Linked DNA regions of Homo sapiens: all the other regions are linked to region 1. Evidence: fine-mapped expression QTL. A gene starts in region 1. Each other region holds a variant in brackets. All regions are shown on one strand. Distances are from middle to middle.

Region 1 (2,763 bases):
CGCAGGGCATTGCTCCTAAAGACAATCTTACCCTCAGCCACTTGTCCCCCTCTTAGGCCTGAACTCCCGCCACAATTCCTGCTGGGTTGATTAAATCAAGTGGTTGGAAATTAAAGCCAATTGAAGAGATTAAGTGTGCTTGAGTCACTTTAAAGTTTTTGGTCTTAACAGGTCACTCCTTTGGACCCACCAGACAAGGTCCCCTCATCCTCATAGCAACGGGTTGGGGGGCTTTTGGGTGTGGAGCCCAGGAAGCATCCTGAGGAAGGTCAGACCTGTGACGCTCAAAACACTCAGGATCCATTCCTGGGAGATGAGGCAGCCCAGCTTCCGTGCTAGCCCTGCCTTTGGAAAGGAGCTAATCTTAAGGAAGGGGTTTCATAACAAGGGCATTTCTTTCCTACTCTGTATCCTGACTTGGATCCCCAAACCTGTCAGTTGCTCCCCATATCTGCTGGAAAACAAGGAATCTAGGACAGGACAGGTGACAAAAGAGAAGGGCAGAAAAGTTGCTGCAGGGGAGGAACAAAAGAGCAAGGATGTCTTGAGAAACTGACCTGGTTCACTAGTTTTTTTATCTTCCTAGTCGGCCTATGGGGTTCATTAGATCAGTGAAGGAGGCACCCTGAGAGTGAATAGGTTCCAGAGACGGGGTCCTGGAGTGGGTGAGAGTTGGGGTCCTTCTGGAACTTGAGAGAAGATGAAACAGTAGTCCATTGGCCCACGATGAGCCTGCTAATATTAGAGGCTGGGTTGACTCTTCCTTTGCATCCCTAACCTGCTTTAAGCACGGTGGGGACTGTCTGGGACCACGAGAGACGCATACACGGGAGGAGGAACAACAGAGAAAATACAGGCTGACATGGAGACAAACGGAGCGGGGACTCAGATATGATACCCCAGGCTCTGCCTCAGCCAGAACTGTGTTGACGAAGGGGGACGGGGTGCCTGAGAATTGGGGGCGGGGTTTCCTCCTCTCAGTGGGGCTCTTCTGTCCCGCGCTCTCCTCCTCCCCCACCCCCCCCCCCCGCCAAGCCCCGTGACTTCTGCTTTAGGGGCAGATTGCTGGGGAGCTAGTCTCCTTCCCCGCACTTTGCAGTTCACCCTTTCACCGGGTGCCTCCCCCGGGCTGCAAAGGGTGGGGGGCGGGGGTAGGGGGAGCCAATCCCGGCAGCGCCAAAGAGGGGAGGAGGCGGTGACAGCCGCGGGGAGGGGGCGGGAGGAGAGAGGCAGCTCGGCTCGGCTCCGCGCTCAGCTCCGCTCTGCCTCCGGCTCTGCGCTCACCTGCTGCCTAGTGTTCCCTCTCCTGCTCCAGGACCTCCGGGTAGACCTCAGACCCCGGGCCCATTCCCAGACTCAGCCTCAGCCCGGACTTCCCCAGCCCCGACAGCACAGTAGGCCGCCAGGGGGCGCCGTGTGAGCGCCCTATCCCGGCCACCCGGCGCCCCCTCCCACGGCCCGGGCGGGAGCGGGGCGCCGGGGGCCATGCGGGGCCAGGGCCGCAAGGAGAGTTTGTCCGATTCCCGAGACCTGGACGGCTCCTACGACCAGCTCACGGGTGAGTCAGTGACGTGGGGGTCGCGGGAGGGAGGGTGGATTCCATTCCTCCAGACCCTTCCGCCTCTCCGACCCCGGCCTGGCCCGCACCCACACTCTGCCCCATTCCCAGGCACTCTTATGGCCGGTCTGGGCGGCAGGACACTGGGGGTTCAAAGCCTTGGGTCCCGCAGGGGTTGGGGAGGAACAGAAGAGGCAGGTGTGGAGAGGCAGCAGGTGTGGGCGTATGTGACACAGGGCTGAGAGGGTGTCTGGAGTGGGAGGTGTTACGTGCGTGAGCACCTGTCATTCTGTGTGTGTGTGTGTGTGTGCGCGCGCACCTCCCACAGCTGGTTGCCATGTGCCCTGGGCTTGGTGACAGCTAGGGTGAGTGTGATTGTATGTGGCAGTGCAATTGTATGGTCTCGTCAGATGTTTGAGTTTGCGTAGGACCCTGGTTGTACTGATGAAGTTGTTTTGACCATGTGTCTCTATGTGCAACGATGTGTTGTGAGTGTGTAATTCTGTATGAAGTGGTGTGTAACTACCAGAATGTGTCAGGGCTCTACTTTAGGGTGGCTTGTCTCTTTGTAAGCCTTCATGACCATAAGCCCTCTGGGCAAGAATTTGTTAAAGTAGGTTGTGTTGTGTTTTGTGGTTGTGAGATTAGTGTTCAGTGCTAGTTGTGTACTTTCATGTGGTGATGTCTGCAGCGGGGCTCTGTGAGTGTCTATGACGTGTCTCATCCCTGCTGCCTCTCTGGCTTCCTGGTACAGATAGGGGTCTTTAGTACACCCCACTCCTTCACCAATTTTTCCACAAATAGCCCAGGTGGACCCAAGGAGGGACTTTAGTGTTCAGCTGCCCAGTCTGGTTTCCAAGAGACCTTATGGCTCCAGCACCTGGCCCCTGTAGGGAGGCTTTAGTTAGTGCTGGGTCAGCCCTCTCTCCCCACACCAAATCATGTACTGAGATTATTCTTACAACTGAATCCTTCAACCCCCAACAAACCTTTCAGAACTTCACTCAAACCCCAGGAAAACACATCCTCTTCCTTCCCCTCCAGAGACAGAGCTAGAAGCTCTAGGCCTGGGAAGTGCCATGTGGTGTCCTGCATGTCCACCAAACCACTTGGCTGCCCGGGCATCCTCTCTTTCCCACATGGGGAGGTATGTGAGGCCAGTACATCTGTGCATGTGCATGTTCCTGGGTTTGGTAGGAAGAGCC
Region 2 (2,763 bases), 910 kb after region 1:
CTAGAAAACACTGACCAAAATGTAACAGCTCCAGAAATTAGGACTTGGGAGTTCAGCCTTCTTATTTTAATTAAAAAAATTTAAACTGTTCACTCAAACAGATTCTGACAGAAACTTCTTTTTAAAAATATTTTAGGCTGGGTGCAGTGGCTCACGCCTGTAGTCCCAGAACTTTGGGAGGCCGAGGTGGGTGGATCACTTAAGGCCAGGAGTTCGAGGCCAGCCTGACCAACATGGTAAAACCCCATCTCTACTAAAAATAGAAAAATTAGCCAGGTGTGGTGGCACAGGCCTGTAATCCCAGCTACTTGAGAGGCTGAGCAGGAGAATTGCTTGAACCTAGGAGGCGGAGGTTGTAGTGAGCAGAGATCACGCCACTGCACTCCAGCCTGGGTGACCAAGTGAGACTCTCTCTCAAAAATAAACAAACAAACAAATAAATAAATAAATTTTAATCTCCTTTCCATTTTACTTGAACTTTTCATAATCAAACCTGAATTCCTTTTGAAAATTGTTAAAAAAAAAAAGTACTAACCTTTTTCTGGTCTACTACATTTAGACACTCATGATAAAATCACAAAAATGCAAGGATTTTAATTACATTTTAACATTAAACTTACAAAATACTGGTTAGGAGTATAGCATTAAAATGAATTGACATAATTTCTAAAAACTACTTACAAGTTGGTAAAGCCTCCCACGATGAAAACGGACTTGGAATCAAAAAAGGAGAAATGAGACAGTGTCTTACACAGGGAAAGTGTTTAATGAATGATTAGTCTGGTTTTCAGAAAATAAATATGAAATGTATTAAAAAACTGCTTAAATGAAGGTATGCTTGTATGTCATAATTAGGGTTTGAATGGCTATAACAATGGGCCCACATCAACAAGAGGCAAATTAACATAGATAAATGCAAAGTCTTACTTGGAGGTTTAAGAAATGATATACACAATTAGAGAATAATGAAGCCCTGGCATAACAGTAAAGGAAATTTTTTGTTTGTTTTTTTGATATGGGGTCTTTCTCTGTTCCCCAGGCTGGAGTACAGTGGCATGATTAGTTTTGAACTATAATAAGTAGAAATTTGTAGGTTTCTTCAGATGGGCAAGAGTCTCACTGAAAACTGCTGGTAAGACAGACCTTATCTGGAGCATGTGTCCACGTATCTTTAGTGGAGGCAGTGAGGGAACACTTTAGGAGTGACATTGACAAGCTACTCCTTTACTTGGATCTTACCTTAACCGCAAGACCTTCAACTACTTTACACTTTAAAAAAGCAAACTTTCTCTCTCACCCCGGTACTCTCTGTATCTACCTTACCCTACGTTTTCTTCATAGCACTTATCATCTGACACAATACATTTACAAATGTGCGCGCGCGCGCGCGCGC[A/GCACACA]CACACACACACACACACACACACACACTTATTGTTTGTCTCCTCTACATTAGCATGTGGGCTTCATGAGATCAGAGACACTGATTTTTTCATTGCTGTTCTCTCCAGTGCCTGGCACAGCTGGCACTCAAAATGCCAACTATATAAAACAATGAACGAAAGTCTGTACTGGAATATCTCTCCAGTTCTCACCAAATACGAGATTTCTTGAAATGCTATCATAAAACCCAGAGTAGAAACTCCATGTTTTTCCCACTTTTCACTTTATATATAATAGCTGTAGTTCTCTGACACCATTGATACTTTTTTCCTTTTTGTTATAGGATTTCTGGGGCCAATACTCACATATTATAAAGGACTCTTTTATACTACGATTCCTTTTTCCTGAATGTATATTTTTCACACATTTAGGATTTTATTAAAGTGGAACACTCAGTAACCTGAGAATAATTTTTTTTTTTTTAAACAGATGTGGTCTTGCTATGTTGCCCAGGCTGATCTCAAACTCCTGGTCTCAAGTAATCCTCCTGCCTTGGTATCCCAAAGTGCTAGAATTACAGGCATGAGCCACTGCGAAGAATAACTTGTCATTCATAATCGTTCTCGTCTTTGAAAGAAGCATAATTCCAATCTAACTGAGTAGTTACTATAGTACTTGTTGATACAGAAGCTTTTATACTGGAAAAAGCCCCATCCATGCCCTCCCATATAAATGTCTTTTTTTTTTTTGAGACAGAGTCTCACTCTGTCCCCCAGGCTGCAGTACAATGGAGCAATCTTGGCTCACTGTAAACTCCACCTCCTGGGTTCAAGCAATTCTCCAGCCTCAGCCTCCTGAGTAGCTGGGATTACAAGTGCCCACCACCACACCTGGCTAATTTTTGTATTTTTAGTAGAGACAGGGTTTCACCATGTTGGCTAGGCTGATCTCCAGCTCCTGACCTCATGATCCACCTGCCTCGGCCTCCCAAAGTGCTGGGATTGCAGGCATGAGCCACCACTCCTGGCTGATACAAATGTCAAGAGTAAGAAACTTCTACATTTATCTGCATGAAGGTCCGAAGTATCTAGAGTAACACCAGAACTCCATACATAAGCATCAATGATACCACTGATATTTAAAAAGTTACCAATTGAGTTAACTTTCTGGAATTATCATATCTTAAATTTAAGATAATTATTTAAGTGGATTTAAGCGTTAAATATGAATGGGGAAAAGAAACACTTGGTTGGATTTGCATCCAAAAAAAAAACCATATATACGAATGGGGAAATATTAGCATACAATTAAAATTCTGAAAATGTATATAGGTACCACCATAAACATGAAAAAAGGTTAAAAAGAAATTTAGGTATGTAAGCATTAGAAG
Region 3 (2,763 bases), 21 kb before region 1:
GCTTGAATCTGGGATGCAGAGGCTGCAGTGAGCCAAGATCATGCCACTACCCTCTACCCTGGGCAACAGAGTGAGACTCTGTCTCAAAAAAGAAAAAAAAATTACGGTAGTACAGTAGGTACTACAGTTAATTTTATACAGTTATAATTTAATACTGCCTCTTTACGTTTGCTTACATTTCTCTCAGCTGCAAATGGTGCCATGTGTGGTGTTTGTGTGCATGAGTTTTGTAAATTTTAACTTTTTATAATAGACTTGTGTATATTTTATGGTAGTAAATGATAAAATACTCTCTATGTATATCTTACGTGTTCATTACATATTTAATGTTTTCTTACTCTTTTTGTTTGTTTGTTTGTTTTTGTTTTTTTTTTTTGAGACATAGTCTCACACTGTCGCCCAGGCTGGAGTGCAGTGGCGCAATCTCAGCTCACTGCAAGCTCTGCCTCCCGGGTTCATGCCATTCTCCTGCCTCAGTCTCTCGAGTAGCTGGGATTACAGGCGCCCACCACCATGCCTGGCTAATTTTTTGTATTTTTAGTAGAGACGGGGTTTCACCATGTTAGCCATGATGGTCTCGATCTTCTGACCTTGTGATCTGCCCGCCTCGGCCTCCCAAAGCTTTAATATAATTAAAAAAAAATTTTTTTTTTTGAGCTGCGTCAGGGCTTTTAATTGAGAGTTTGTAAAGTCCTGATTTTTTTAAATTTAAGTTCTAGGGTACATGTGCACAATGTGCAGGTTTGTTACATATGTATACATGTGCCATGTGGTGTGCTGCACCCATTAACTCGTCATTTACATTAGGTATTTCTCCTAATGCTATCCCTTCCCCCTCTCCCCAGCCTGCAACAGACCCCAGTGTGTGATGTTCCCCAACCTGTGTCCAAGTGTTCTCATTGTTCAATTCCCACCTATGAGTGAGAACATGCGGTGTTTGGTTTTCTGTCCTTGAGACAGTTTGCTCAGAATTATGGTTTCCAGCTTCATCCATGTCCCTACGAAGGACATGAACTCATCCTTTTTTATGGCTGCATAGGATTCCATAGTGTATATGTGCCACATTTTCTTAATCCAGTCTATCATTGATGGATATTTGGGTTGGTTCCAAATCTTTGCTATTGTGAATAATGCCGCAATAAACATACGTGTGCATGTGTCTTTATAGTAGCATGATTTATAATCCTTTGGGTATATACCCAGTAATGGGATGGCTGGGTCAAATGGTATTTCTTGTTCTAGATCCTTAGGGAATCGCCACACTGTCTTCCACAATGGTTGAACTAGTTTACAGTTCCACCAACAGTGTAAAAGTGTTCCTGTTTCTCCACATCCTCTCCAGCACCTGTTTCCTGACTTTTTAATGATCGCCATTCTAACTGGTATGAGATGGTATCTCATTGTGGTTTTGATTTGCATTTCTCTGATGGCCACTGATGATGAGCATTTTTTCATGTGTCTTCTTTTGAGAATTGTCTGGTTTTTGTGTGTGTGTGTGTGTGTGTGTGTGTGTTT[T/G]TTTTTTTTTTTTTTTGAGATGGAGTCTTGCTCTGTTGCCCAGGCTGGAGTGTAGTGGCACTATCTTGTCTCACTGCAGCCTCTGCCTACTGGGTTCAAGTGATTCTCCTGCCTCAGCCTCCTGGGCAGCTGGGACTACAGGCAAGTGTCACCACACCCAGCTAATTTTTGTATTTTTAGTAGAGACAGGGTTTCACCATATTGGCCAGGCCAGTCTCGAACTCTTGACCTTGTGATACAACCTCTTTGGCAGCCCAAAGTGCTGGGATTACAGGTGTGAGCCGCTGTGCCTGGCCTTAATTTTATTTTATTTTTTAAGAGATGGAGTCTCACTATGTTGCCCAGGCTGGTCTTGAACACCTGGGCTCAAGCGATCCTCTCACCTCGGCCTTCCAAAGTGCTGGGATTTACAGGCACGAGCTACCATGCACAACCAATTTTTTCAAAATTTCTAAGATACACAATTTGCGAGATTTTTCAAATTGTTCCAAATCTTCAAAAACCTTTCTAATATATATGTATATTTTTAAATTTGCATATAAGTGGACCCACACAGTTCAAACCCATATTGTTTAGGGTTACCTATTTGTTCTATTAGTTACTGAAAGTAGTATGGAAACCTTCAACTTGTAACTATATGTTTTTCTGTTTCTTCTTTAGCCTATCGATTTTGTTTCATTCAAAGTTTTGAAACTGTTTTTAGATGCATGTATGTATGGGTTTGTTACGTCTTCATAATGAATAGACCTCTTTATCATTACAAAATTTTGCTCTATATTCCTGATACTATTTCTTGTTTTTAAGTTTCCTTTGTCAGATATTAATATAGCAATTCAACTTTCTTCTATCATTTTACTTTCAATCTGTGTCTTTATATTTTAGGTAGATTCTTGTTGCCCAGGCTGGAGTGCAGTGGCGTGATCTTGGCTCACCGCAACCTCCGCCTCCCGGATTCAAGCTATTCTCCTGCCTCAGCCTCCCGAGTAGCTGGGATTACAGGCATGCGCCACCATGCCAGGCTAATTTTGTAATTTTAGTAGAGACAGGGTTTCTCCATCTTGGTCAGGCTGGTCTCGAACTCCCGACCTCAGGTGATCCACCCGCCTCTGCCTCCCAAAGTGCTGGGATTACAGGCATGAGCCACCGCGCCTGGCTTAAGTGGATTTATTTTGGGCAACTTGTATAATTGGCTCTTGATTTTATGTCCAATCTGAAAGTCCCTGCCTTTTAATTGGAGTATTACATTGA

Alleles and levels. Positions count from the first base shown, and alleles are read on the strand shown. Sizes are in standard deviations (SD) of each study's normalised expression. Not every link is listed here.
As copies of A replace GCACACA in region 2, the expression in skeletal muscle of the gene that starts at base 1,254 in region 1 goes up (large effect, 0.86 SD a copy in FUSION).

The links. PIP is the estimated chance that this variant, and not a neighbour inherited with it, causes the effect. A credible set is the group of variants that fine-mapping cannot tell apart.
Region 2: its variant is the best candidate, but not a certain one, in a credible set for the expression of KCNIP2 in skeletal muscle (FUSION, PIP 0.65).
Region 3: its variant is the best candidate, but not a certain one, in a credible set for the expression of KCNIP2 in whole blood (INTERVAL, PIP 0.57).

The regions. Positions count from the first base shown.
Region 1 is chr10:101,842,291-101,845,053 of GRCh38, reverse strand. It overlaps KCNIP2 (potassium voltage-gated channel interacting protein 2), which reads left to right and starts at 1,254. Exons shown (of 10, transcript NM_173191.3): 1 at 1,254-1,558. The coding sequence starts at 1,486. RefSeq lists a silencer at 1,032-1,281 and an enhancer at 1,237-1,742.
Region 2 is chr10:100,931,351-100,934,113 of GRCh38, reverse strand. All of the region lies in intron 9 of SLF2 (SMC5/6 complex localization factor 2), which reads right to left. Among named protein-coding and RNA genes, the nearest start is that of SLF2, 20 kb to the right of the region's middle. The variant A/GCACACA (reference allele first, on the strand shown) is at 1,394.
Region 3 is chr10:101,862,829-101,865,591 of GRCh38, reverse strand. All of the region lies in intron 24 of ARMH3 (armadillo like helical domain containing 3), which reads left to right. All of the region lies in intron 2 of LOC101927445 (a long non-coding RNA gene), which reads right to left. Among named protein-coding and RNA genes, the nearest start is that of KCNIP2, 20 kb to the right of the region's middle. The variant T/G (reference allele first, on the strand shown) is at 1,516.